4 linked regions of the Homo sapiens genome follow. The protein of the gene in region 4 interacts with the protein of the main gene of each other region in a biochemical or structural test. Each region holds a gene or a part of one and is shown on either strand. Other genes may lie near its edges. The genes, in order: UTRN, DGKZ, MAST2 and SNTB2.

Region 1 (7,107 bases), on a different chromosome or scaffold from region 4:
AGAGCCTCATTTCCTCAGAACTGGGCCATGCTTCCTACCACCTGTGCAGGTTAAATTGCCAGGAATAGTCCTAGGGTTTTACCAATTGTAGGTAACCTCCAGGGTGGTCCGAATCGAATGAAACACTTGAATTCAAAGAGATAAAGCTAATCACGGGTATTTCATAATTATGATTGATTCAGTATGGATTTTTTTTTGGTAGGGCAATTTCTTGACCCCTCCAATCATCCAAAGTGGCCTATTTAAGGCCAGCACCCCAGGGCACAGGGGCTCAAAGTGTGGCTCCTCAGCTATTCTGATCTAAAGCTAAGGCATGTTAAACCTGCAGCTTCCTGGGCCCCACCAGGCCTAGTCAATCAGAATTTCTGGGGAATGGCAATCAATCTGAATTTAAAATATATTCTCTGGGTAATTCTTGAGTGCATTAAGTTGTAAGGAACTCAGCCTTTGTACTATTTATTTTCTAAAAGTTTCATGTGCTATTATTTTTTGTTTCTTCAATTCTATTACAAAAATTTATATGATAAAATTTTATCAACTCGCACACATACTAGACGTTTGACTGAAGAATTTACCAACAATACTCAGCAAAAATCCAGTATCTATTACACACAAGCTCCAGATTTATACTTTTTTTACCTGAAAAATATAAGAAAGGCTAAATTCCCTAAACTTTCCTCCTCTCTTAAATGCTTGTATGTGGGGCTTTAATTATAGTCAATACCAAAGGTAAAGCTAAAGGAGTGTCTTGTTTTTTTATACATTGTGTATTTTCCCCTGTTTCTACTGTTTAAAGAAAAACTGCATTTATATAGTCTTGCACAAAGTTTAGTAGCAAATGTTTTCCTTTTGGTTCTTATATTAGGATGCAGTTCCCTGTATGGGAATAATATTTATGTGAATCATGTCTATATACACTATACACACATATACATATATCTTTATATATGAATCTATATATACACTACTCATATCATAATTTTCTCCTTTGTCAAAGGCTTTCTATCCTGCAGTGACACTAACTCCATTTTCCTTAATTTTCACAGTTCTGTGGTGACAGCAGGGCAATTCTGACTTTGGGTTACCAGTAGACCCAGGGCCACATTCCTATTATTCTCTCCAGATGTTCTACAGCGATCTGATCTTTGGGATGAGCAGACAAAACCCCACTGAGCATCCTTGTTGCAGGCCCATTACCTTAGAGGCCTGTCTCCACCGTGCCTCACCTAGATTCTCTGGATATAAAGGAAGATCACACTGTGCTTTATGGAAATATAGCCCTCTGTGGTCAAGATCGCCCACCAAATGTGGTTTCCCTACCAAATAAAGAAAGTGTTGGGGGACAGGACCAGCACAGGACCAGCTTGAGATCTCTTGATCGTTCCATCAACAAGAATTCCGCCCTCCCTCCCTCCCTTCCTCTTCCTTCCCTCCCTCCCTCCTTTATTTCTCTCTTTCTCTCTTTCTTTCTTTCTGACAGTCTTGCTCTGTCACCCAGGCTGGAGTGTAGTAGCGCCATCTTGGCTCACTGCAACGTCTGCCCCGGGGTTTAAGCGATTCTCATGCCTCAGCCTCCTGAGTAGCTGGGATTATAGGCATGTGCCACCACGCCCAGCTAATTTTTGTATTTTTAGTAGAGACAGAGTTTCTCCATGTTGGCCAGGCTGATCTCGAACTCCTGACCTCAGATGATCCACCTGTCTCGACCTCCCAAAGTGCTGGGATCACAGGTGTGAGCCACTGCACCCAGTCAACAAGAATTTCTTTAGCCTCTTTTGCTCATTACCTACAAAGAGCATCAGTCTCTGCCTGGAGAGAAGGGCTAGAAACAGATAGGGCACAGGTCCCCAGGTAACTGGCTGTAAGCCACTATGGCTGATATGCGGGGCAGGTCACTCCTGCACAGAAGGTGGCTTGTTGGCCTCCTGTTCCATCTCTTACAGGCGTTGAGGAAGCTCGACTAAACATCTCCTCACAGCTTACAATCCCAGAAATCATAGGACCCTAAACGTGCGTTTTTCAAAATTTTTGAGCTAAAATGATGTATTACTTTGTAAATTGTGAAAAGTGTCACAAATATTAATTTAAGTGACAACATCATCAAACACTCCAATGTGGCCTTATTATCTATTTTGAAGGAGAAAATCTGAGTTTCATCAACTCAACCAGGATACAGTGAGTGATAAGCAACTTTTGGTGTCTGCAAAATGATCAGTTAAAAAAAACCTGGGGGCTGGGCACGGTGGCTCATGCCTGTAATCCCAGCACTTTGGGAGGCCCCGTCTCTACTAAAAATACAAAAAATTAGCAGGGCGTGGTGGTGGGCGCCTGTAGTCCCAGCTACTAGGGAGGCTGAGGCAGGAGAATGGCGTGAACCCAGGAGGCGGAGCTTGCAGTGAGCGAGATCGCGCCACTGCACTGCAGCCTGGGCAACTGAGAGAGACACTGTCAAAAAAAAAAAAAAAAGAAAGAAAGAAAGAAAGAAAAAATCCTGGAGTCCCTCTATGTGACCATACTCAGCTAGCACTTGATCTGTTCTTTTCTTATGGCATTTATCTCCCGGATCTTGTATATACTTACTTGTTTACATGTCTTATCTCACCTACTACATTCCAAGTTCTTTAAGGGTAAGATCACTATCAGATTTATCTTTGCTTTACCCACAGAACCAGCAAACCTGACAGCCCTAAACTGATGCTTGTTAAATGAATGAATGAAGTGAATGAATAAAATCATACCCATTTCAAGTTAATCCTTTGGATTTTATTTGGCTTATACGTAGAAAATCATCAAAAGGAAGGAAACTGTCCTAGAAACCTTACAAGGAAGAGTCTCTTTTGGGAATCTCCTACCTGCCCCCTCCCTGGAGCACTTAGGGATGGATGGGGGAAACTTTCACTATAACAAAAGGCGAGTAAACTCTTTCTGAAAATTAGTTTAAGGCCCCTAGTGGTTTAATCTTTACTGCCGCGTAAATTAACTCAAATATTAAGCCAGCAATAAACCGGCGCTCCAGTATCAACCATCCTTTTCTCTGTTAATACGAACTAGGAACTCAGGTTGCTGTTTTCTTTCCCCTCCCACGTGTGCTGATCGTGTAAAAGAATCACAGGAACACACGAGCAATGAAATGTGTAAATAAGAAAAATGCACACACATCACGAGCTCATTTCTTCCCAGATATTTTTTGGTCAACCTCTCAAGCTTGGAACAGGCTCTATAACAGATGTGCGTTTGTGTGTGCATATTGGAAAACAGAAAAATAAGGTCAGCGCAAACACTACTTGTAATACAAACTAATGTAAGAGAAAACTTCTTTTTCAATATTAACAACGACACTAGAGAAATAATGTAAAATAAATATACGGTTGGAACTAGGGGTAAAAAAAAAATCAGCAACGTCAGCAAACTGAGATGGGGTGAGTTGGAAGGCAGATTGGAATTTATCTCTTAAAAAAATATCACCCTAACTAGAGACCTGTTTTGCCTAAGGGGACGTGACTCACATTTTCGGATAATCTGAATAAGGGGAATTGTGTCTGCTCGAGGCATCCATTCTGGTTCGGTCTCCGGACTCCCGGCTCCCGGCACGCACGGTTCACTCTGGAGCGCGCGCCCCAGGCCAGCCAAGCGCCGAGCCGGGCTGCTGCGGGCTGGGAGGGCGCGCAGGGCCGGCGCTGATTGACGGGGCGCGCAGTCAGGTGACTTGGGGCGCCAAGTTCCCGACGCGGTGGCCGCGGTGACCGCCGAGGCCCGGCAGACGCTGACCCGGGAACGTAGTGGGGCTGATCTTCCGGAACAAAGTTGCTGGGCCGGCGGCGGCGGGGCGAGAGCGCCGAGGGGGAGCCGGAGCGCTGCAGAGGCGCGGGCCGGAGGGCTGGCGCTGATCTGCACCCTTCTCATCTGGAGAGCGGACCCCTGGCTGCCCGGAGGCGAGCCCCTTCCCGGGGGGTGGGGGCGGCAACGCGCGACCCAGCGGTCCTGCGCCCCACCCTCCCTCCTCCGCCTCCAGCGCTCGGCTCCAACAAAGGGGCAGGCCCGCAGCGGGGAGGAGGAGGAGGAGCCGCCGAAGGAGCGAGCCTCTCTCGCGCACAAAGTTGTGGAGTCGTTTTTCCTCGGAGCAGGGAAGCGGGCAGCAGCAGCCGGCCGCGGGCTTTCTCCCGCCGAGGGGCGAGGAGGAGCCTCTGGCTCCAGAAGCCGATTGGGGAATCACGGGGAGCGGCGCCCCCCTTCTTTTGGGTCATTTCTGCAAACGGAAAACTCTGTAGCGTTTGGCAAAGTTGGTGCCTGCGCGCCCCTTCCAGGTTTGCGCTTTGACTGTTTTGTTTTTGGCGGAACTACCAGGCAGGAAGATTGCACAAGTAAGGGGCGTTTTCAGTCGGGTGTCAATTTCTCTTTCTTTCTTTCTTTTTTTAAAATTTCGGTTCGTGTCTGCTTCTCCAAGCTTTATTTTTTTTTTTAAATACATCGCACCACCAAACTAACACTCGCACACACCCCCGCGGTTACTCCGTGTCAAACTCCTAGAGGAGCCCTTGGCCAGCTCGGGGTGCGGCGGTGGCGACCGGCAGGCGAGGAGGCCCGCGGGCAGCAGGTAAGCCCATGCATTATTGAAGCCTCGGGCTGGTAATGTGACTACAGCCCCCGAGGGAATGGGGCGGGGGCCGGGAGGAGGATGGCTCTTTCTGTGGTTCTTCCGCCTGGGATCGGCGTCCCGAGCTGCTTCCCAAGTCCCAGAGTCGAAGATGGGAGTAACTTTTGCGTGCCCTTTCCTCGGGGCCTCAGTTTAGCTCCCCGCGGTGCGAGAGAGAATGCCGGAGGCGTGGAGAGCTCGGGCGTGGAGGTCCTTGGGATCCGTACTAGTTGTGAACGATCCAAACTTATCTGACCAGCTCTGTGCTGCCTCCCTGCTCCCCTAATCTTCCTCCCCGCCGGGGTGACAGAGTCGCCCTCCGTGCATCGCGCGGTGCAGGGCGCTGGGCCAGTGATTTGCAAGAGGGGACGTGGCCTCTTAGGAGAGTCTGTCACAGACACCCGGGCCCGGGGAAGGCGGGGCTCCGGCGGTGTCCACAGGAGAGGGTGGGCAGAGGGTGGCTGTGTGGTCGGCGGCCAGCGGAGCGCTTCCCAGCCAGCCGCCCGGCGGGGAACGTGCTTGACCTCTGGGTGGTTGCTGCTCCCAAGGGTGGGGCTCCGGAGAGTGTGGCGCGATCGCCAAGCTCCCTGGCAGCGGCCCTGGAGAGACTGAGGGGACAGGAGGAGGGGGGCGCCCCATTGGTGTGTAGTCCCGCGCAGTCGCCGGCTCTCCTTTTCCGGACTCTGGGGATCTCTTGCTGCAACTGACAAGGTAATTCATGCCCCGCTTTGGCCCGGGGTCCGAGGCTGTGGTTGCTCAAGGCCACTTAAAAACCAACAAAGCACCAATTGAAGGCTGTGCAACTTTCAGATGGCAGGTTGTTCAAAGGATTTTTTCCTCCAAGCCTCAGATTATGAAAGGGACTCATTCCAGTGCGTTTTTCGAGGAGGAGGGAGAAAACGTTGCCCGACCTCCGAGAGAGCTGTGGGACCAGCACTTTATTTTACAAGGAACTGCAGAGCTCGGGTTCTAACTCCACGGCCCCGCTCTCTGAGGTGTTCAGGACAGGGCCTCCTCTTTCCCAGCCTTCAGGTCAGCCGGATCACCAGGGCCTTGCGGGCCAGTTCCCCCTGCCGCGGTTGGGAGGGTCAGTGCAGCGGTCGCCGCGGCCAGAGCGCGCGGAGCTCGGGGGAGGCCGGATTCCCTAGGTCTGAGCCGACCCTCCCGGCCGCCCGGCCGGGCGGCAGCGACCGCATCCATTCCTTTGTAAGTTGCACCGGCCTCAGGAAGTCGATCTGGGCCCTCCCGGTTCGTTGGCGGTGGGCGTGGGAGACGCAGCCTGCGGATAGCTCAGGGTCAGGGGAGAGGTGGAGGAATGCGAAGCTTGTGGGTAGTTCTGCGGTGACGGACAGGGTTGGCGTGGAACCATTCCCCGCCCCTTTTACCAGCCTTTATGGGACCGATGAGACAACTCTTTAACTCTCCTTTGGGTGTTTACCTAAAATTTATTGGCTCTGTAAACAGTATTAATCACAGTAGTATTAACCTTCCCTGGAGCGCTTCCGAGTGTAAATGGCAGTTCTTGGCACTCACCGTTTTCTTTTACTGTGTTTCAAGCAGAGCAGCAAACTCTTGTCCGCTTGGCTTCCTTTTCTACTATCTCAATCGTTCCTAGGTTTTGGTTCCTATAGTAAATTAATGAATAGTGTTTGCATTACACAGCATTTCCATCATAATGCACACTGTTGGATATATATGTGCTATATACATAAAATATAGTACAAAATAAAAATTATATACATATATTCATTGTATAATTCCTAAAATCTTAAAAAATTGAAACATTAGTTTTGTCTTTAAGGCTGTCACCTTATGTTTATTTTTTAAACACCTTATGTTTATTTCATACACTCTTGCTTGGTGGTCCATATGACAGCCGGAAGCGTTCTGAAGGGAGAGTTAGTGAATATCGACTTGACTGGATTGGTTTCAGTAAGAACATCTGGCTTTTACAGAATATCATTTGAGGGAAGGGAAATCTAGGGCAGAGGTAACAATAAATTGCATTTGTATAGGGCTTGAAGCTTCTAAAGCAACATCTCATTCATTGATTCTCAGTTTCTCACCTAGCCTTCTGTGAAGATGGTGTTCCCTCCATTTTATAGGTGTGGAAGACGGAGGGTCACACTGGGATGCATTGTTCGTGGTGAAACTTTGATTCTGTCTCCTGAGAACCAAAGATTCTGCATTTGGCAATTAGAAGGAGTCATCCTTTGCCTTAAGTGTACTCAAATTCCTCTGGCCATTAATGGCAAGTAACCTCAGTGGCTATCACTATTTAAATAGCCTTCTGTTATTCTTCTTTCTCCCCATTTTCCTCTGTACTCTGATCACCTTTTCTGCTGTATCTTTGCAACCTGTAAGGGATTTTCATTATCAAGAAGAGAAAAATTTGAAAAATCACCTTGAGGAGAGTGGCAAGTGAAACATTATAGTGAAGAAGTGTTACTGATAATGGGCAAATGGAATAAAGT
Region 2 (7,582 bases), on a different chromosome or scaffold from region 4:
AAGCAAGAGCTAGGTTAAGAGCTAGCATGGAGCTGGGATAAGATGAAGGGCTGGTTTCAGCTGGGGCTTCGAGGACTTTTACCTGAGGCTGCAACAAACAAACAAAGGTAGCAGGACCAGCCAAGCAGCATTGGAGGGGGCAGAACCCAGAGCAGGTGTACTATTCCACCCTTCCACATGTCTGCCCCCAGCACCCACCCCTTGGCCCCATCAAGTCAAAGGGAAGGAGGCCAGCCCCAGTGAGCTCCCAGGCCTGCCAGGAGAAAGTGCTTTCCCTTGCTGCTCTCTGCCTGATACTACTGGGTTCTCTGAATGTATTCATTTCTGAAGGCCCCACTATCCCCAGCACAGTGCTCCCAAACAAAGGACACTCCTTACATGCTTCCAGAGGTGCTGCTGAATTTTCTTTCCTCTCATCAGGCATCCTATAAGAGCACTTACACTCCCCAGCGTGACGGACTACTGTGCTTCTCAAACTTGATGGGACATGAGAATCACCTGGGAAGCTTCAAACAATGCCCAGGCCCCACCTCCAGACCTGATGGGTCAGACACGCCAAGGGAAGATCTAGGAATCTGTATTTCTTAAAGCTCCCTTGGCCATTGTGATGTTCCGTTTGGGATCCTGGTATAGAGAAAGGGATGTGGATTTTGGAATCACACCAACTTGACTTCAAACCTTATCTCTACCTCTTCCTTGCTATGTGACTCTGAGCAAATCCCCTCTGACTGTGTTTCTTTCATCTATAAAAATGGAGAAACAGGCCAGGTGTGGTGGCTCACACCTATAATCCCAGCACTTTGGGAGTCCGAGGTGGGAGGACTGCTTGAGGTCAGGAATTCAAGACCAGGCTGGGCAATGCTGTGTGAGATCTCATCTCTACAAAAAATTGGTTTTTTTTTGTTTTACAAAAGGAAGAATACCACCTACCCTGCTTATTTTAGAGAATTACATAAAGGTATCTGTTGGTTCTCTGGTTTCTTGTTCTTCCTCCCGAATGTGCTCATCCCTATACCCACAAACCTGTGCCCTTCAGAAGGGGCACAGCCACAGGTCAGAAGAACCCAACACTTGATACCCTGTGGGCAGCAACAGGAAGCCTCTGGTGGCGCCCCTCCCTCCCCCTGCGGAGCCTGTGAATACTGGAGGCTACATCCTGCAGAGCTGGGTGTAAACTGCTCCATCTTGCAGGGCTGTGGGTGACAAAACAGAGCTACTGGAAGTTTCACTCCCTGCTCTGTTTTATATGACATTGAAGCCTGCGTGGTAACACAGGAGCCCACGGAGCTCCATCTGCCAGTGTAAGAATTCAGATCTGTGCATGTGCTCAGAGACAGAGTGCAGGTGCAAAGAGTGGGCCCTAGCCCGGGTGAGACGGGTAGAGGGCACAAGTCAGCATCACGGGTATGCTAGCCCACACGACAGGAGAAAACCGCCCATGTTATTGGTGGGTAAAGTCTACCCAGGGAAGGGGCAGAGCAAAGCTAAGGGGCGGGGTGGGGGTGAATGCCACCAAGTCTAGGCAGCTGCAGAAAAGTGAGAGGGAGGCCTTGGGCAGACTCCAAGTGGTCAGAGTTCAGTCTGAGGTGGCTCTGGGGTCCTTGGCTGATTGGCTACAAGCTCCTTGGCCACCAGGGAAGGGCAAGGCTCGGTCAGGAAGAAGCGCAGGGAGCCAGGTCAGGTACTCCTGGGGCCTCACGTCCCTTACCTTACACCACGGCTACCAGGGCAGGCAGCGGCTCACGACCAAGAGCAGCACACTTGCCATGAACTGCCTGCACTCAGTCTTTCCACACTCTCCCCCCGGTTCCCCGCTAGAGTCCTGGTCAAAGCTCTGTCACAGGCACAAGATGGTGACATTTGGAGTGCTGGGGGAGGGGGCAAGATGAAGCTTGAACAGCCAGCAGATTCCAGACTCCAGCCCACCCCATCCCTTTCCCAGCATGGGCTGGAAGAGGGTAGAGGGAGACATGCTGCCTGCCTAGCAGAGGGATGGGCTGGGGTCTCTCTGCTAATTAAGAGCAAGGTAGGGCAGATGATCAGGCACCCCCAACCCCAAGGAGAAGCTTAACATGTTAAACAATTAAACCAGTGACCAGAGCTTGGGGACAAGCCATGTGTGGTGACGGTATCAACGGGGCTACGTTCTGCAGATGCCACGCAGTGATGGTAGGCAACCTGGTCCCACGAAAGTCCAAAGGGCGGTGTGATCCCCACCTCAGTGGTGCCAGGAGGCTCAGAGAGGCCCTGTTCTATCAGTGCCAAGAAGGCGTGGGTGACCAGTCCTGGGGGCCCAACCTGCTTGTGCCGGGGGCTGGGGTGATTCCATCTTCCTGCTGGAGGGTTGGGAGCCGATCCTCCCACGGTACTACACATGAGGCGCACTAGACTGCCGGTGCCAGGGAATGACCCCCACCCGGTGACAGTGCCAAGCCGACCGATCCCGCCCGTGTCCCGGCCCTGGGGGATGACTCCCAGTGGGTGCCCACGCCAAGACGGCTCGTGCCGCCGGTGCCAGCCTCTCCCCGACTCAGTGTCAGTACCGAAGTGGCCCGGACCCCCAGTGGCCGAGGAATGTCCCCCGGTGAGGGAGCGGTAACCTGCCGGTGCCTCGGTGCCTGCCCCGCCGCCGCCCCGCTCACCTGTGCCCGAAGAGCCGCAGCCCCGGGAAGCGCCGCTTGTTGAGTCGCCGCGGCGCCTTGTCCGGCTCGGGACCGGCGTCGCGCTCGGAGCCGCTGGACGAGGCGGAAGCCGACTCGGAGTCGCTGCTCCGGGCCTCGGGGCTACCGTCCCGCGGCTCCATCCGGCCCTAGCCCCGGCCGGCGGAGGGCCCGCGGGAGACGCCCATGCCGGGCCGGCGGCCGGGGCTCAGCACGCCCGCTCCGCGCCGCCCGCCACCTCCATGGCGCGCGCTCGCTCCGCCCGCCCCGCGCCGCGCGCCCCCGCTCCCCACGCCCAGGTGCCCGGGAAGCCGCTGCCGCCGCCGCTCCAGGAAGTGCCGCCAGCCGCGGCCGCAGGACCCCGCATAGCTGGCCGGGCCGCTGCCTGCCCGCCGCCGAGCACGCCCCCTCGGCCGCACGGTGGCACCGGGCCCGCAGCGCCCTCTGCCGGACGCCCGCTGCGCTGCAGCCCGCTGGGGCGGTCCGAGGGGCGGGGCGACGAATGGGCGGGGCAGCAGAAAGCCCTGCCCCCAGCCCGGCCCGGCCCGCCTGGATGGGACTGAATCTCCCGGCCTGGCACACTCGCACTGCGCGCATCCAGACGCGCATCTTTCCTCCCCCGATCCCTCCGCTACCAAACAACTGCACGCTCACAAGTGTACACTCGCGAGGGCTGCTGTCACCACCTCCCCTCCGCTCTCGCACACCCTACTCATAGCCACTCACAATCTCCACCCATACCTCCTTGGCTCCCCCAAATCGCACCCAGGGGAACAAAAGTCACACAGTGCTCCCCATGCACGCAGAACAAACACATCCCTTACACAATTATGCCCACTCATTACTTAAACGAACACTTCCCACCCCAGCCTCTCGCACTCAGTGACCAAAGTCACTTAATGACTCGCACACACACCAACAAAGAACTCACAAGTTTCTCCTACAAAGTCATCCTTCCACAGCTATTCACAATGGTTTCCAACCTTCTCACCCAGGCCCAACACATCGCATTTTCCTGACATAGTATTCAACAGAACCTATAGATCTCATATGCTACGGGAATCACCTGCACAGCCCTTACACACTCACAAATACACAGAAGGACAACAGGTACCACACTCCCATTCACAAGCACACATGCCCACACAGAACACACACCTTTCTCCTACATACAAATACTCCCAGGACAATGGTTACCGGTTGCCACATCCCTCACACATATGTATGTGTGTGCATATGCACACACTCCCATCCAGAAATATACCTCACATGCACACACAAAGACACCCCACAATGCAGCCGAGGCCGTCCCCCTCCAGAAATGAGAGCAATTGGAACCCAAGCAGTCACCTGTAGGGGCACAGCCATCACACACACCGGGGCTGTTTCTGATGGCCCCCGCAGGGCTGACGAAGGGAGGCCAGGAGCTGGGAAGCATGGTCTTCCACCTCCCCAAACCCTACCACCCTGCTGCCCACACCAGCTGCCCACTACTTCTGTGTGCACGCCTCTCTGCCAAGCCACATCCTGTGTCACCTTCGCTTTCATCCTCCCCTCTTGGGTTCTGGCAGCCCGTTTTCCAGCCTTAGTCAGCCGCAAATAGCCAATGCTTAGGGCTGTGACCTGCGGACAAGCCTGTGATTTTGAGGAAGAACCAGCACCCCGAGGCCCAGAACCCTCTCCCAGTTTCCTGCAAGTTGGGAGAAGGTCTGATCAGGGAGGTGGGGCTCCAGCCCTCCAGCCAGCAGCTGGTGCCAGGGTGGCCAGGAGGAGGGCAGATCAATCCCCAAGTATGCCTGACAACTGGCCTCTGGGGTGCATGGGTCCTTTTGGGGAAGTTTCCCAATGGCTCTTACTCCAAGCTCTGAGAGAAGAGATCAGAGGCAACTGAAGACCCCACGGAGTCTCCACAAGGCCTTGCAGCTGGGTCAGAAATCTCCAGCATCCAGTGCCACACTCCTGGGGGGGCTCCTCTTCCCAGATCCCCCCACTGCTAGCTTGCTCAACTCCTGGCCTCTCTCGAGCTCAGTTCCTCCACACAGTCCAAACATCAGAGCTCCCTGCACCCTGCCAATAACTCCTTTGCCCTACTCTGTGCCTCTGCAGAGTGCTGGATGACAGATGGGTGACCCTACTTCTGTCACCCCCATCTCAGATAAAAGGCTCATAGAGGGACAGAGGTCCCATGCCCACTCCCAGGCCACCCCTTGTACCTACTGTGTCTGGGGTGCCTCTGATGGGATCTGTGGCACGTCCCAGGAGCGGTAGCGCCACATCTGCCTCAGTGACCCCGGCCGCTCCCCTTCTTCCGTCCCCAGCGCCTCCACTGGGCCCAGAGCTGAGGATTCATTGCAGCTTCCCCCGGCACTGTGGCCAGCCCCCGGTGCGCTCATCCTGCCCGGCGACTCTCTTCCTCTTTCGGCACTTCCTGACGGGGGTGGGGTCGAGGGGGGGGCCTGCTAGAGGCCGCTGGCCGCCCAAGCTGAGGACCACAGGCTCAGGGCTCATAGGCGCCTTCCGCTGGCTGGGGCCAGCTGCCGTGAAGAGCTGCACAAGAAAGCAAGGGGCAGGTGGGGACAAGCCCAGACCAGCAGCCAGGAGGCAGCCATGGGGCTTGCTTGGGCTGGAATCTGCACCTGGGCTCCTGTCTGGTTTTCCTCTCCATTTAAACTGTCTGATTTTCAACTCTTGGTCCTGCTGAGGTCTCCCGCTTTATGACAACCACCAGGTACAATGGCTGGGTGTGCCCAGCCCTCAAAGAGCGCTCTCTTCCTAGCACTTCTGTGTGCAGCATACCATCTTACACAGGGCTGGGCATACAGGAAGGTGGTGTAGAGAAATGAGCAATGAGGATGGAGCCTGGAGACATGAGCATGTGTCCTGTTCTGCCTCTTACCAGCTCTGTGTGGCCTGGATCAGGTCATAAACCTCTCGGAGTCCTCTAAATAACTTTTGGGACAAGGTAGCCTATAAACAAATAAACTAATGAATACATGTGCCAGGGAGATTTTCTGAGCCTCAGTTTTCTCATCTGTAAAGTGGAGTAATAGGCCAGGCATGGTGGCTCACACCTGTAATCCCAACACTTTGGGAGGCCGAGGTGGGCAGATCACCTGAGCTCAGGAGTTTGAGACCAGTCTGGCCAACATGGTGAAACCCCATTTCTACTAAAAATACAAAAATTAGCCCGGCGTGGTGGCAGGTGCCTGTAATCACAGCTACTTGGGAGGCTGAGGCAGGAGAATCGCTTGAACCTGGGAGGTGGAGGTTGTGATGAGCCGAGTTCGCGCCACTGCACTCCAGCCTGGGTGACAAGAGTGAGACACTGTCTCCAAAAAAAAAAAAAAAAAATTGAGCTCATGGTGTTATCTGAGGAATAAAGAAGAGATAGGAAGGTTGACAAATTAATTCATTCAATAAATACTTATTGAATGCCTTCTGTGCATCAGGCACCGTATCGGAGAACATAGCTCTAAAAACAAGGAAGCAGGGCTCTGTCCTCACAGAGCTTAGATTCTAGTGGGGAAGACATTCAGGAAACAAACAATCTATGTACAATATAATGTCAGCAAACAAGATGTGCCATAAAGATTGGGAGGCTGAGGCTGGTGGGTTACTTGAGGTCAGGAGTTTGAGACTAGCCTGGCCAACATGGTGAAACCCCCTGTCTACTAAAAGTACAAAAACTAGCTGGGTGTGGTGGTGGACATCCGTAATCCCAGCTACTCTGGAGGCTGAGGCAGGAGAATCGTTTGAATTCGGGAGGCGGAGTTTGCAGTAAGCTGAAATCACACCACTGCACTCTAGCCTGGGCAACAGAATGAGACTCTGTCTAAAAAAAAAAAAAGATGTGCTATAAAGAAAAATGAAGCCAAAGGAAGGGAGAAGAGTGATGAGAGTGACTTAGGCAGGGGGAGGGGATCAGGGAGGGCCTCTCTGGGGAGGTGATATTTGAGAGCAGACCTGAATGAATGGGGAGCGTGAGCTATGTGACTTACCTGGGAGAATAGCATTCTAGGTGGAAGTAGAGTCAGAGCAAAGGCATGGAACAAAGAATGTATTTGTGTCTGGAGAATTGCAAAAAGGCCAGCATGGCCAGAGAACAGGGAGCCAGGGGGAATGCGTTAGGAGCTGGAAAGATCTCCAGAGGCCAAACTGTGCTGGAGTTCAAGGCCATTGTGAGGATTTGGTAAATAAATACTAGGGCATATATTCACTCTTTATTCTTAGGACTGGTTCTAGGAAGGAAACTGTACCTTCCTCAAGCATTCTTTAATCGCCCTGCTCTATAACTAGTTCTTTAGTTGTATATGTGTTTGTTACTGTGAATTTCTTGAGGACAGAAACAGCATCAGTTCAGTTCAGTAAACATTTATGCTACAGAACCCTTCAAGATGCTATCCCGACCCTTAAAAACCTCCATCTGGTGCTGTAATCACCTTTGTGTCCCTCATGATGGGAACATAATATTTTTCAGTAAATATTTGTTTAATAAATGCATGCTATGCAATTAATAATTAATACTCAGTAATCATAAAACAATGGCTAATAGTTCCTGAACATTTCTGTGCCAAAAATCTTACTGAATATGTAACGTAGCTCTTTGAATCCTCTTAATGACTCTAGGAGGTAGATCTTGTTATTTTCCTCCTTTTTTTGCTTTTTTTTTGTTTTTTTTTGAGACTGAGCCTCACTCTGTCACCCAGGCTGGAGTGTAGTGGCGTGATCTCTGCTTACTACATCCTCTGCCTCCCAGGTTCAAGCGATTCTTGTGCCTCAACCCCCAGAGTAGCTTGGATCACAGGCGTGCGCTACCATGCCCAGCTAATTTTTGTATTTTTAGTAGAGACGGAGTTTCACCATGTTGACCAGGCTGGTCTTGAATTCCTGACCTCAAGTGATCTGCCCGCCTTGGCCTCCCA
Region 3 (7,020 bases), on a different chromosome or scaffold from region 4:
CATGCTGCTGTACACCTGTGGGCACAGGGGATGCGCTGGGGATGGGCTCTGGCAGCCGTACCTCCCAAGTGGCATAAAGCATCCTTGGCATCGGAAACCTAGGAATTTGAACCAGTCGGTTCCATCCCTCCTTCACACACCCCTGCTGAATATTTGGGGAAGGAGTTATTCCACTGATCTGACCTGGCATCTCATGTCAGGGACAGCAGTGGTTCTAGAAGCACCTATATATAGCTATATGTAGCCCCAACCCTTAGCTCCTCTTTTTCTAGAGGTGGCCCCAACCCCAACTCCCTGAGCCTGCCCCAGGTGTGCCCTTTGACAGGCCCTCTTCTTCTGATCCTCCAGCCTGTTCTGCCCATTCTGGGCCTCCTCAGTCACACCTTGTTGAACCTTGGAGAGCAGGAAGAGAACTGGCGGATCTCAAGGCAGCCATCCTCACTCACTTCTTCCTCATCCTCCGAGTCCATGTGGTGGTATCGCTCTGAGCGGGCTGGGCCAGACATAAAGGACACTTTCCTTCAGAGCCCTGCTGGTGGCCTCCTTGTGACCCCATTAGATTTCAGCAGAGCCCTGAGAAGTTGCTCCCAATGCAATTTCAGTGTGCACAGGTGTTTCTAGGCAAACAGGTAGGACCCATCCTCCACCCCACCCATCGGTGGCCTTACTGTCAAAATAGCTAGTATCATCCTCTGACTCCAACTGAGGAATAAATTCAGCCTTCTGGCGGAGAAGTCCTGTCCAGTCCAGACCAGTAAAGAATGGGTGCTGCTTCACCTCATAGGCACTGCCTGTGGACAGGGAGGACATGGGCAAGGGGGTAGGATGAGCAGCATGGAGTCTAGGTCAGCAAATCTAGCAAGAAGCCAGACCTTCAGAAGCTATACCTAGGGGATCAGCTCAAGCATCTTCCCTTTTCTGCCTACAGAGCAGGGCAGAGTTTCAGGATCCAGAGGGGCTGCCCGTAACCGAAGCCTGAACCTCCAGGGTACATGACTCAGCCTCCCTTACCCCTTTTCCAAGTAGTGAGAAAAGTTAGCAGGGCCTGCCCTACCTGTGCCAAGTCTCTCCAGAGGGTTCTGGTGGAGCAGTTTGGAGGTGAGGTCCTGGGCGTCTGGGGGCAGTGCCTCATCACCCTCAGGCCACACAATCTCATCTGAAGTCATCAGGGGTGAGAGGGAAAGGAGAAATTGTGGGTAGAGTGGAGAGATGCAGAAGAGGGTCCCAGAACAGTGAAAGGAAAGGAGGCAAAAAGGACCCAGCCTGGAGCCCCTGAAAGCCTTGCCTGGGACCCCAGTCCTTAAATTCTATAGGTTCCTAGACCATAGCTTGATCTTTGATCCACAGCAGGCACTGCAAAGCTCTAGCTCACCCTGCTTTTATACTCCACAAAACATACACAGACGTACCCCTCACACTTATGGGATGTGCACATACACAGACAGGAACACCCAGGTGTATATGAGAGACCAGGTGTCTATGAGAGACATGTGAAGCCCCAAGGGACACAGTGTGCACATGTATGTACATGCAGAAACACAGAGACACCCATCCCCAAAGCAGCAGACATCACAAACACACATGATGAGTTCAGAACAAGAGCTCACAGGCCTCACGAGCTGCCTGCATACATCATATTTGTGGATTCAGACTCTGTTTCCCCACTGGGCCAGGGGCATAGTACCTACCACTGATCACCTGCCCAAAGAGCTCCTCCGGAGTATCTCCAAAAAAAGGGACGCAGCCCACCAGGAACTCATACAGGATAATGCCCATGGCCCACCAGTCCACTGGCTTCCCATAGCCCTGGCGCAGGATCACCTCAGGCGCAATGTATTCTGGGGTCCCGCATACCTGGGCACAGAAAAGCCAGGCTGGCTCAGCCTCCTGAGGCTGCTGACTGGCATGACAGCCGGAGATGGGGGATGCTCCCATCTCGAGCAGAAGAATCTCTGAATGAAGACTCAGCCCACCTTAGTTAATGAACAAGATCAACAGAAGCCCCAGGGAACAAGAGTCGGAACTGTCAGTAGGTATTTCCTAATTAACAAAAATGTCTCATTCTAGCCCGGAACTACCATCCCTTAAGCCCTCAACACCCACCTCTGGCATGTGATCCCACAATGGGCCTCTGCACTCCAGCCTCTAACAAAACAGACCCTATCAGTCATGTAACAACTACAGGGACCGGTGAACAGTCACAACCTGAAATGTCAAACCAGGGAACATCCAGAGGCTGCCTCTCAGGACACTGGGCCACAGCCCAATGGAAATTCAGAGCTGTGTTCCAAGAACCTCAGGCTCCAGGAGAGCCTTGCCCTTGATTCAGGCTGGGAGATTCAGGACTGATCTCATATGAAACTCTGTGCTAACAGTTATATGACCTATTTTCCCCAAACCCTGAGGAGGAAGATGACTTTGGATTTTATATCCATATGATTCTCAAGGCTCATCCTGTTTTCCAAATGTGCTACCTATCTCAGTGCCTCTCTGGAACCCAAAGGTAGAAAAGATAGGGGTTCCCAATCTTAACATCTAGCTACAAGGTAGGCATATGGCCCCAAGGCCTTATTCTAGGGCCTGGAATCTATGTATGTGTACACAAATGTAGAGATGGGGTCTCACTATGTTGCCCAGGCTGGCCTCAAGCGATCCTCCTGCCTCAGCCTCCCAAAGGGTTGGGATTACGGGCGTAAGACACTGCGCCAGGACAAGGGCCTAGAATTTAACCCCCAGTGTATCAACTACCCTTCCTTACCTGCTTGTCCAGGAATTCCCGGGCATCCTTTTCAATATGACCCTCATACAAGTTCGTTGTCAGACTCATGAGGCCAATTTTGGACAGTCCAAAGTCCGTGAGCTTGATGTGCCCCATGGATGTAATTAGGAGGCTGGAAGAACGAAGAAATAAAATTAAGAAGTTATTCCTGGTTTTCTGAGAGTACTGATTTTAGTATATGCCCAGTTTCCCCACTCAGGCTTCCATGGGGGTACTGTGAGACACAAGCTGGGTAGCTTCAGCTGGGGGGACAGGCAGGTGTGGACACGTAAATCGCTCTGGCTGTGTGAGTGCTGCATTCTGCACAAGCAACGAACCTGCCTTTTGCCCATTCCCACAACTCCATTTCTGCTTATTGCCCTAACTGTATTCTATGTTGGGGGCAGGAGTCATTCAGTTGAGGAACAGAGTTTCTTCTACAGAGCTGAGATCAGCCTCATCCTAAGGCAGCTGCTGGAGCCATTCCTAGTCCCCTCTCCCAATCTGAGTGGCCCATAATACTCCTGTTTCAGGGAGAGGGGCAGGGGGCACACATAATTTTGTTCCATGTCCATGGCTGGTCTTGGGAGGAGGGTTAGTTGGGAGAAACTAGAACTAAGATCCCTTTATATACTCTGCCTGAGCCACTCATTTTGTGCTGAAGGCTTTACCCTGCCACCCTTTTATTCTAATGATTCCCCAAATAGTACCTCTGGCTCTGACTTCCTTTTTGAGCTCCAGGCCTACCCAACTGCCCATGTGTCTTACAGGCTCCAGAAACTCAACCTGTCCAAAACAAAGTCATGCCTCCCAACTGGTTCCCCTCCTCAGTGAAAAACAATAATTTTGGTTATCTGTTGAGCTCTGTGCTAAGTGCTTTAAAAATATTCTGGCCCCTGAAATGTTTTCTAGAGTAACACATCAAAGGTAGGTGTAATTATTCCCTATATTAGAAAGGAGGAACGTGAGGGTCAGGGAAACTTTAATTAGTAGACTCAAACTCAGACTTAATAAGCAGAAGAGTGGCCATTTGAATTCAGGTCTGTCTTATGTCAAAGCCACTTTCTTCCACAGAGGCTTATCACCCTGCACCAGTCCCAAGCTGGAAATCTGGAACACATCCCAGCCTCTTCTGTTCCCTCACTTCCCTTCCTACCCCCACCCCAGCCTGATCCTCTTTCCTTTATACTTCCCCACACTACCCCTCTTCTTTCTATCCTGACTCCCTGTTCTGCTGCAGGCATTGCTGTCTTTCCCTGGTCTCGGTATCTCTTTGGCAGTGGTCTCAGTGTCTCTTTTCACCGGCAGAGTGAGCTTTCTAAACCTGAACCATAATCTGGGCATGCCATTCTATCATATCTTTGGTTAGCAGACCCTTCCAAGACTCTCTAGGCCCCTTTAGAATAAAACCCAAATATAACAAAAGGGCCCTTGATGAACTAGTTCCTGCCTCTCTCTCTAGCCTTTTCTCTTACTACTCTCTCACCATCTAAGCTGTCGCCATATTGCACTATTTGTAGTTCCTGAACAAGTGCTGTTCTCTTGCACCTGTGTGACTCTGCACATTCTGCTCTCCTGCTTTAGAAAGCAGGTCTTCCTTTTTCCACTTGACTAATACCCTCTGAGAAGAAGCCTATATACATATATTTCTGTCTCCCACTGTAGACTTAAGTTCTACATGCCAGGGACTACATTTAAAAACCCACAATATAGTGCTGGCACAGAGTAGATGTCAGTAAACGTCAGGACACTTGTTTAGCCATCTACTAGATGTGCTTATTCTTTTGTTCTTGCTTGGTTTCTTCAGTGGGGCTCCTCAATGACTCTTCCATGTCACCGAAGCCTTATAGTGTTCCAGCCAGACCTTGAGGCAATGATCTGCATCTGGGGTGGTCGGGGGGCTAGAGAACTAGGCCCAGATGGACACACACAGGAGCATGTTTTCCCGGTAGCCATCTGGATAGATTTAGAGCTACTGTGCTTGCCAACATTTTATCTGGAGACCCAAGAGGGAGACCCTGGACAAGGGACACAGACTGTGGACATACTTGTCAGGCTTGAGGTCACGGTGCACGATGCCATAGTTGTGTAAGTACTCCAGGGCCAGCACAGTTTCCGCAAAGTATAGACGCACCATGTCCACAGGCAGGGCCCCAATATTCTTCAGCAGAGTGGCACAGTCTCCCCCTGCAACAAGCCCAGGCTACCATGAGGAAAGGATTCAGTTCCCTGCTCTAGCTAGCCAGCTCCCATCTGGCAGTTTCTGAGGTCCCAGAGGAGACAGCTTCATGGAATATCCTGGTGCTGGAGACTCTGATTCTAGCCCCTTTGCTGCTGGCATGGGTGGGAGACAGGGTGATATGGTTTGGCTGTGTCCCCACCCATAGCTCATCTTGAATTGCAGCTCCCATAATTCCCATGTGTTGTGGGAAGGGACCTGGAGGGAGATAACTGAATCATGGAAGTGGGTCTTTCCCATGCTATTCTCGTGATAGTGAATAAGTCTCATGAGATCTGATGGTTATTTTTATTTATTTATTTTTTTGAGGCAAAGTCTTGCTCTGTCACCCAGGCTAGAGTGCAGTGGTGTGATATCAGCTCACCGCAACCTCTGCCTCCCAGGTTCAAGCGATTCTCCTGCCTCAGCCTCCCGAGTAGCTGGGATCACAGGCGTGCACCACCACACCCAGCTAATTTTTGCATTTTTTGTAGAGACGGGGTTTCGCCATGTTGGTCAGGCTGGTCTCAAATTCCTGACCTCAGGTGATCCACCTGGCTCAGCCTCCCAAAGTGCTGGGATTACAGGCATGAGCCACCACGTCCGGCCCATCTGATGGTTTTATAAAGGGGAGCTTCCCTGCACAAGCTCTCTCTTGTCTGCTGCCATGTGAGACATGCCTTTCACCTTCTGCCATGATTGTGAGGCCTCCCCAGCCACATGGAACTGTAAGTCCACTAAACCTCTTTCTTTTGTAAATTGCCCAGTCTCTGGTATGCCTTTATTAGCAGCATGAAAATACACAGGGTATGGAGGGGGGTGGAAAGTAAAGTGAATCTGCTAATAGCTGTCATGGACATTTTTCAGGCCAGAGAGGGAAGGAACCCAGGCCTTTATTAAAAGTAATGGCAAACATGCAATTACTTTTGTACCAGCCTAATGTTTTTTAGGACAGGAATACTGCATACTGTAAACACATCTGGCTGAGATGTTAACATCTGTTCATGTTACTTCCTTCTTACTGGCTTTTAGTTTCTGAGTAAAGTAACACTATGAACTCCCAGCATGTACCCAGTAAACACTAAAGGACAGTTTTGTTCAGCTTCAGCTTCAAGACTAGGCACAGTATCTTTGGAGGCTGTACACACAGTGAGAAGGTGAGAGGGAAGGGAAACTGGCAAAGCTGCTGCCTCCCTCCAGAACTATGCCCCATGTTGCTCTTCTGTTCTATTCTCAGAGCATTTTGCTTGGTTTTAAGGGGTGTCCCCTTTGCAAGCCAGTCAGGGTAATTAATGGCTTTCCTTTCTTCTGAGGGTCCAGATGCAAACCTCCTAGCACCTAATCCTGGGCTTTTGTAGCTCTGCTGCCTCCTCTGTTGCTGTCTGATACCAGCAGTAGAGAGCGTGCAGGCTTTGGGGTGCAAGATTCTATAGCTGCTGGCCTGCTACATCCTATCCCAGAATGCCTCTCATGGTAGAGGCAGGGAGCTTTGTGCCCACTGTGGCCAAATGGTCTCTGTGATCCTGAGGCAGAAACCAATGCCAAAGGTGGACTGGAAAGCTGGGCCCTGAAACTTCACCTCTGTACAAAGCTGCTGGTCCCTGTTTAAGGCTAAGTCTCAGACTGTGCCTTGGCCTCCATGCCAGGCCACCTTTGCCTCAGTACCTTCAACGTACTCCATCACCATGCACAAGTGGCGCTTGGTATCAAAGGAGCAGAACATGCTGACCACAAAGGGGTTCTCAGCGAAAGTCAGTATGTCACGCTCCACGAAGGCCTGCTGGATCTGGTTCCGTAGGATCAGGTTCTGCTTGTTGATCTTCTTCATGGCAAAGCGCTGCCGGGTGGACTTGTGCCGCACCAGAAATACAGCCCTGGGAAACAAAGTCCGGCCCATCCCCCATGGACCCTCAGCACCTGAGCTGTGCTCTCTGCCACCCAAACTGCCTTCTCTCACACCTTAATTAATGCACAGAACAAGGGGGCAAGGGCATGCATATCAGTGAGAAGGGTCTGGGACCCCCTGGTCCATAGAACTCTTAAA
Region 4 (7,830 bases):
CTTAAAATCTGTCTTTTAAAAGTGGCCTACCTGGATGGGACACCAGCTCTCAATTTTAAATAATGTTTGACTGGTTCAATTAAATCATTGTTTTCAGTGGTTTTACATATTTTGAGTAATTTTATTTTTACACCCAGTGGCTTGAAAATGCAATGTCGTAAATCTACTATATTGACTTCCTCACTACTTATAAGAACAAAAACTGCTTGTCTTGTACAAAGTGGGAAAATAAAGTAGAACCTGCATGTTAGGTAAAAAGGCATTCAATAAACATGTTATTATGCGGCCATCTTTCTAAAAGCACACGTGGCCTATTTTAGCCCAATAAAGACTGGGAAGCATTTACTGCAAGGTTTTCATTTTACTGGTCTGAATACTAGGTTCAAACTATACCTATACAAAAAGTAGGTTGGTTGTTTGTTTTTGAGATGGAGTCTTGCTCTGTCATCCAGGCTGGGCATCCATGCTGGAGTGCAGTGGTGAGATCTTGGCTCACTGCAGCCTCCACCTCTGAGGTTCAAACGATTCCCCTGCCTCAGCCTCCCTAGGAGCTGGGATTACAGGCATCTGCCACCACGCCTGGCTAATTTTCGTATTTTTAGTAGAGACGAGGTTTCGTCATGTTCTCCTGACCTCAGGTGATCTGCCCACCTTGGCCTCCCAAAGTGCTGGGATTATAGGCATGAGCCACCACGCCTGGCCAAAAGGTTTTTTGTGTTTTTTTTCTAAATATGGTGTACAAGGTTCAACTGTCTGCCCATCACAACTGAGGACTACATAAATAGTACTAAATTCAATATTCTGGATGTAAGAATTTATAACCAAATGCTTAGCTAGACCAACTTCAAGGTACACGTTTAGAGTAACAGTTTTTTTTGGACACACACCCAAACCACAATCTATAATTTTACTCCTTCTATTAACACTAATTTCCGAGCAATGTCTAGCCCCACCTAGACATGCAATATAAATAAGGTTTATAAATAGGATATTATAAAGGTGGGACACTGGAACTTCACAACTGGTGTACATGAAATCATTTCTGGTAAATCAGTATTTTTCCAAATATTCACAAGCTGATTTATAAGAAAGTGAAAATCCATTGTGCCAAGTTGGACTTCTGGCCTCTCGGTTTGACGATTGGTCCTTCTTCACCAGCAGCCCCCAGCCCTTCCCTTCTGTCCTTCCTCTGCCAGGAATACCCTCCTGACTCATCCCTGCCTGCCTATGTCCATCACTTCTTGGAGACCTGGCTCAAGATTCAGCTTCGGGAAAAAGTCCTCCCTGGCTAATTCCATCTCCACTAACTATTTTCTAACTTTGCATTCCTTTGGCATTTAAGTATAGTTTCACGACGTAATCACCAACTTCATTCCTTTCCTCCCTATAAGTTGTTTTGCATTTTTCTATCATTTCTCCAACTAGAGACCAAGTAGGGACAGCATCTTCTTTTATATTCTTTTCAACACAGCTAGCCATAATCACCAGTGAAAGAAAGCTGACCGCTCAAAAATTTCTGAAGAAAGCAGCTGACTTTTCGTTTATAATTTACAATACTCTATCACCTCCAACATGCATGAGTCCTTAGAGGAGAGGAATTTTATTTTTGCCTTAGTTCAAATTCATCATGAAAGATCCAACTTACAGATCACATACATATAACTTAACGTAAAGAATAATCCTGGTTATTGAAACCTATCTTGTGATTTGCCATTTCAAGTTTCTTACAAAAACCCCAAGAGTCTTGAAGCAGCGCGCCTGTGAGTGGTAGGAAGCTGGCAGCAGACTTGCAAAAGGGGCAAAACTCTAGTTGGCAGTAAATGTTCAAACACGTGAGCCTCCACTGTTAAACAAGGTTCGTTAACCACACAGACTTGCTGTTTCAGCTTTCTGGCTTCAATGAAATGCTATGATCTCCTTTGGTTATTGTTGAGAGCCAATGATGGGTTAAATTCCCATAAATTAACCAGCGCTTTGGTGGTTTGCCCGAGCATACCGCTGGCATCGGTGAAGATGGACTTTTTTTTTTTTTTAATAGACCCGCCCGCCCCGAGGAGCCAGAGGTGAGTGAGTTAAGCGCCAACCCGGCACTTCTCAGCGGGCAAACGGAGACAGACCCACTCGAGCCGTTCGCTCTCCCTCAAGTTCTTAGTGTCAGCTTATCGGGCCGAGGTGGGGCTTCATAGGCAGCTGCTTTTTACTCAATCTCAGCCGAGTCTTCCCTAGGGGCTGCAAGCCACACTTCGGCGGCTGCCCAACTTTTCCTGCAAGAAGCATCCGTTTTTCCACACTGAAAGCTCCAGAAACCCGGGTTTGGAGAGAGACGGGGAGAGAACCGGCTCGCCCCGCCGGCGGGGCAGGAACAAAGTGAGCTCCCGCGAGCCCAGGCCGCCGCGGCCTGCCCACCCTCCCGCCCGGCCCCGCTCACCCTCCAGCAGCACCTCCTTGCCCGCGCGCTTCAGCGCCTGCACGGCCTGGTCGTGGGTGGCCTGGCGCAGGTCGGTGCCGTTCACCGACAGGATGGCGTCGCCCAGCCGCAGCGCCCGGCTCTGGTCGGCAGCCAGCCCGGGGAAGATCTTGGAGATGAGGATCGGCATCCGGTTCTCGCGGCCGCCCTTGATGCTGATGCCCAGGCCGCCCGCCTCTTGCTTCACCACCCGCACCCGGCGCACGGGCGGCGACGCGCCCGCCTCACCCGCGGGGCCCCGAGGCGGCGCCGGCGGGCTCGGGGGCCCCAGGCCGCGGCTTGGGCTCCCGGGCAGCGAGTCGCCCGCGCCGCCGCCGTTTGGGAGGCCGTTGAAGGCGGCGGCCGCGGGTCCCAGAGCGGGCTCCAGCTCGGCCGCGGCGGCGTCGCCCGTCAGGCTCAGGCTCTCCCCGCTCAGCTCGGCCACCACTCGGACCCAGCGCTCCCTCAGGAGCAGCTCCACCAGCCCCGCTTTGGTGGCCCGCGTCCACACCGCCATGGCCGGCCCCGCTCCAGCCGCCGCAGTCGCCGCAGCTACCCTCATTCCAGTCAGGCAGCCTCGGCGCTTCCCTCTTCCCGCCCGGAGGGGCGGGCCCGGCCCCTCCCCCGCACGATTCATTATTCATGAGGCCACGCCTGCCTCTGGAGGGGCGGGGCCGGCGCAGCCGCTTCCGGGAGGTGCAGAAGTTGTCCGATCACTCGCCTCTCGCCGGACGTGGGCAACCCGAATGCGGTGGGACTGCATTTCTCCTCATCCTTCCATTGGCTCCCCACGGACCCCCCAGAAACTCCTGACCTCTACCGTGCAATTCACGGGAGCTGCCCGGGCACGGAAAGCAAAATCAGCTTGGAGAAACACTTCTCAAGCCTGCAAGACCCGGTGGCACGTTCATTCTTGCATTGATTGGTTCGTACCCTGTGTACTGAGCGCTTAGCCCTGTACTCCGGCTCCTTTTGAGGCCCTGTACTTAAGCTCAATAGTACCAACAACAGCTGAGAGTTTGCGGTCTAGTGGGGAAGGAAAATGCAGAACCAACCAACTAGGTGTGATACTATGTGGTTAAGTGACATGCAGAAGACGTCCCCAGAACAGCATAAAAGGAACATTTGGTTAGGCCTGGGGTCAGCTTCACAGAGGTAACAACGGACGGTGAACAGCTCAAGCAAAGGTCCAACAGCATGATCCAAGCCTTTGTCAATGTTTTGTAATCTCGTTTACTTGCCTGTAATTCAAGAGGGAACCATGTCTTCTTAAACCCTGAAGCCACAATTGGCAGGCCTCAAGGATATTTGCAGAATGATGGTGTCTTAGGGTTCTTCAGAGAAACCAACCAATAGGATATATAGAGATATATAAATTTATTATTATTACAAGGGACTGGCCACGAGATTATGGATGCTGAGAAGTCCCACGATCTGCCATCTGCAAACTGCAGGCCCAGGAAAGTTGGTGGTGCACTTCCAATCCAAGCCCAAAGGCCTGAGACCCAGAATCAGTGGTATAAACCTGAGATTGAAAGTCTGGGCCGGGCGCGGTGGCTCAAGCCTTTAATCCCAGCACTTTGAGAGGCTGAGGTGGGCGGATCACCTGAGGTCACGAGTTTGAGACAAGCCTGACCAACATGGAGAAACCCCATCTCTACTAAAAATACAAAAAATTAGCCGGGCGTGGTGGCACATGCCTGTAATCCCAGCTACTTGGGAGGCTGAGGCAGGAGAATTGCTTGAACCTGGGAGGCAGAGATTGCGGTGAGCTGAGATGGCACCATTGCACTCCAGCCTGGGCAACAAGAGCAAAACTCTGCCTCAAAAAAAAAAAAAAAAAAAGAAAGAAAGAAAGAAAGAAAAAGAAAGTCTGGGCCGGGTGCAGTGGCTTACACCTGTAATCCCAGCACTTTGGGAGGCCAAGGCGGTGGATCACCTGGGGTCAAGAGTTATAGACCAGTCTGGCCAACATGGTGAAACCCCGTCTCTACTAAAAATACAAAAAATTAGCCAGGTGTGGTGGCAGGCGCCTGCAATCCCAGCTACTCAGGAGGCTGAGGCAGGAGAATCGCTTGAATCCGGGAGGCAGAGGTTGCAGTGAGCCAAGATTGCACCACTGCACTCCAGCCTGGGCAACAAGAGCAAAACTCCATCTCCAAAAAAAAAAAAAAAGTCTGAGCCACACGCGGTGACTCACGCTTGTAATCCCAGCACTTTGGGAGACCGAGGCAGGCAGATCACTTGAGGTCAGGAGTTCGAGTCCAGCCTGGCCAATGTGGTGAAACCCCCGTCTCTACTAAGAATACAAACATTAGCCAGGCATGGTGGTGGGCCCTTATAATTCCAGCTACTCGGGAGGCTGAGGCAGAATTGCTTGAACCCAGGAGGTGGAGGTTGCAGTGAGCTGAGATCGCACCAGTGTACTCCAGCCCGGGTGACAAAGCAAGACCCTGTCTCAAAACAGAAAGTCTGAGAAGGGGGTGAGGGTGGGAGTTGGGGTGGGGGGACAATGATGTAAGTCACCATCCCACTGCCAAGGCCCGAGAGCCAGGTTCACCAAAGTCTGAGGGCAGGAGAAGATGGATGTCCCAGCTCAGGCAGAGAATGAATTCCCCCTACCTCTGCCCTTTGTTTTGCTCAGGCCCTCAACTGACTGGATGCTGCCTGCCCACATTGGTGAGGGTGATCTTCTTTAGAGTCTACCGTGGAAATGCTAATCTCTTCCTGAAACACCCACACAGGTATACCCAGAGGTTATGTTTTACTAGTTACCTGGGGATCCCTTAGCCCAGTCAAGTTGACACAAAATTAACATCATAGATGGTTACTTAGGAAGATGCTAGAATTCCAATGTGAACAGAGCATAGGGTCAGTGGAAATGGGAGGATATGAGTGTGAAAAGCATCTTTTTTTTTTTTCTGAGACAAGAGTTTCACTCTTTTTGCCCAGGCTGGAGTGCAATGGCGCGATCTCGGCTCACTGCAACCTCTGCCTCCCAGGTTCAAACGATTCTCCTGCCTCAGACTCCCGAGTAGCTGGGATTATAGGCATGTGCCACCACGCCTGGCTAATTTTGTATTTTTTAGTAGAGACAAGGTTTCTCCATGTTGGCCAGGCTGGTCTTGAACTCCCGACCTCAGGTGATCTGCACGCCTCGGCCTCCCAAAGTGCTGGGATTACAGGCATGAGCCACCACGCCCAGCTGAAAAGCATAACAAAATATCGAGGAGTTTGAACTTGACTTTATAGATCTTTTTTTTTTTTTTTTTTTGAGATGGAGTCTCATTCTGTCACCCAGGCTGGAGTGCAGTGGCTTGATTTCAGCTCACTGCAACCTCCACCTCCTAGTTTCAAGCAATTCTCCTGCCTCAGCCTCCCGAGTAGCTGGGATTACAGGCGCGTGCCATCACACCAGCTAATTTTTGTATTTTAGTAAAGGTGGGGTTTCACCATGTTGGTCAGGCTGTTCTTGAACTCCTGACCTCATGATCCACCCGCCTCGGCCTCCCAAAGTGCTGGGATTACAGGCGTGAGCCACCGTGCCTGGCCGCAGATCTGACTTTCTTAGCCTGGAGGCCATGGCCTTTTGTTGGGGCAAGTGTACGTGGGCATTCCCAAAAATTGTATGCAAAATTTGGTCTCTAAGGTATTTTTTTGAAGCCTGTGATTCATCCAATTGGCAGGAAGTTTCCCTGACCAAAGGCCATGAGCCACTGCTGTGCACATTGCAGAGCCTGCAGTGGCTTTTATTCAGACATGAATGATACAACCCACCCACCTCCTCCAGCTTCATGGACTAGAAGAGCTAAGAAAACTGAGGGCCAGAGAGCCAAAGACCAAAGACCATGGCCCAAAGTCCATAGGAAGGAGGCAGAGACAACTCAGGACTACCAGCCTCTGGATCCAGGGTTATTTTCACTATACAGTACCCTTCAGACCTCAAAAATAAGGGTCCAAGCTGGGCACAGTGGCTCATGCCTATAATCCCAAAACTTTGGGAGGGTGAGGCAAGCAGATCATTTGAGGTCAGGAGTTCAAGACCAGCCTGACCAACATGGTGAAACCCCATCTCTACTAAAAATACAAAAAAAAAAAAAAAAAAAAATTAGCCAGGTGTGGTGGTACACACCCCTATCTCAGCTACTCAGGAGAATGAGGCACAAGAATCTCTTGAACCCAGGAGGCAAAGGTTGCAGTGAGCCGAGATCGCACCGCTGCACTACAGCCTGGGCGACAGAGCAAGAGTTTGTCTCAAAAAAAAAAAAAATTAAAAAAATAAAAAATAAACTAAGGGTCCAGAAAGCACACTGTTAAGAAAGCAAGTGCTCAGCAAAATCATGAGGTCAAGGTGTCCTCTAACTTTTCTTCAGCAGTAGTAGCAAAAAATCCCTGTGTTTTCATGTGGGCAGGGACAGGGGCAAGCAGAGGGAATGTGCACCAATTCCTGTAAAAGGGGCTGTAAACTTGCTTGCTCATGAAGTGCACGTTGAGGCTCGTAAACCGTGGCCGTGCACCACTCTGTGAATGCATGTTCATGTGCAGGCAGAAACTTCTGAAGAGCCTCCTGTAACAGAAGTTAAAATAATAAATGTAGAGGCTGGGAAGTGTCCAGAGCCCAAATGAAGAAAGAATTCAAAATGAGAAAAGTATCTTACCAAAAAAAAAATCATTACAGCAGAATCCTCTTTGCGATTAGTGGAGTCGGATTTTCCAAGCTGCAAATGTCAGCAAAAGCTCAACCCTCCAGCCCTCTCCTAAATCAACTGCAGAGGCCAGCTTGCTGTTCCAGCAGGTCCCAATGTGCCCAAGTGCACCTGCGGTCACAGACGTTCTGGCTCTGCTCCAGCTGAGGCGTGAGCCCCCAGAGGCCTGAGTTATGTGAAATTTCTGCTTATTAGAGAGTGTTTCGCAGCTGATTCCTTAGAGTATGAGTGCTATTTTTAACACTTTTGCATTTGTAATTACCCAGGAGTTGGGCACTTGAGGACACCTTTATTAGCAGAAGGGAAGTGCTGGGAATTCTCTGCAAGACTATCAAGACCTTTTTGCCAATAGAGTTGGAGTAAGTCACAGATCTGCTAACTAATAGTGAGGGCACTTACATAAGACAGCAAGTTATATAACAAAATATTTAACCCTGGAAGTAGCTAATGGAGATAGATTGGTATTGGGATTACTTGATAATTTTTCCTTTAAAGATTATTTTCAGGCTGGACATGATGGCTCATGCCTGTAATCCCAGAGCTTTGGGAGGCCGAGGCGGGGGGATCACGAGGTCAGGAGATCCAGACCATCCTGGGCAACATGGTGAAACCCCATCTCTACTAAAAATACAAAAATTAGCTGGGCGTGGTGACATGCACTTGTAGTCCCAGCTACTC

The links.
Region 1: the proteins of SNTB2 (region 4) and UTRN interact in a test that uses a peptide from one of them, tested with the Homo sapiens proteins (one study listed by BioGRID).
Region 2: the proteins of SNTB2 (region 4) and DGKZ form a complex in vitro, tested with the Homo sapiens proteins (2 studies listed by BioGRID and IntAct, with this or other methods).
Region 3: the proteins of SNTB2 (region 4) and MAST2 form a complex in vitro, tested with the Homo sapiens proteins (one study listed by BioGRID).

Annotation. Positions count from the first base shown.
Region 1 is NC_000006.12:144,281,228-144,288,334, forward strand, and holds the start of UTRN (utrophin), read left to right. Parts: upstream 1-4,107; 5' UTR 4,108-4,594; intron 4,595-5,270; exon of another isoform or gene 5,271-5,443; coding exon of another isoform or gene 5,444-6,052; exon of another isoform or gene 6,053-6,727; intron 6,728-7,107. Other genes in the region: uncharacterized protein LOC124901418, read left to right, coding at 5,444-6,052.
Region 2 is NC_000011.10:46,342,881-46,350,462, reverse strand, and holds the start of DGKZ (diacylglycerol kinase zeta), read right to left. Parts: upstream 3,001-7,582; 5' UTR 2,804-3,000; coding exon 2,643-2,803; intron 1-2,642. UniProt on the Homo sapiens protein: Diacylglycerol kinase that converts diacylglycerol/DAG into phosphatidic acid/phosphatidate/PA and regulates the respective levels of these two bioactive lipids.
Region 3 is NC_000001.11:46,023,602-46,030,621, reverse strand, and holds part of MAST2 (microtubule-associated serine/threonine-protein kinase 2), read right to left. Parts: intron 6,851-7,020; coding exon 6,642-6,850; intron 4,946-6,641; coding exon 4,807-4,945; intron 2,892-4,806; coding exon 2,759-2,891; intron 1,855-2,758; coding exon 1,689-1,854; intron 1,157-1,688; coding exon 1,055-1,156; intron 792-1,054; coding exon 669-791; intron 494-668; coding exon 384-493; intron 16-383; coding exon 1-15. UniProt on the Homo sapiens protein: Appears to link the dystrophin/utrophin network with microtubule filaments via the syntrophins. Phosphorylation of DMD or UTRN may modulate their affinities for associated proteins. Functions in a multi-protein complex in spermatid maturation.
Region 4 is NC_000016.10:69,182,345-69,190,174, reverse strand, and holds the start of SNTB2 (beta-2-syntrophin), read right to left. Parts: upstream 3,012-7,830; 5' UTR 3,009-3,011; coding exon 2,429-3,008; intron 1-2,428. UniProt on the Homo sapiens protein: Adapter protein that binds to and probably organizes the subcellular localization of a variety of membrane proteins. May link various receptors to the actin cytoskeleton and the dystrophin glycoprotein complex.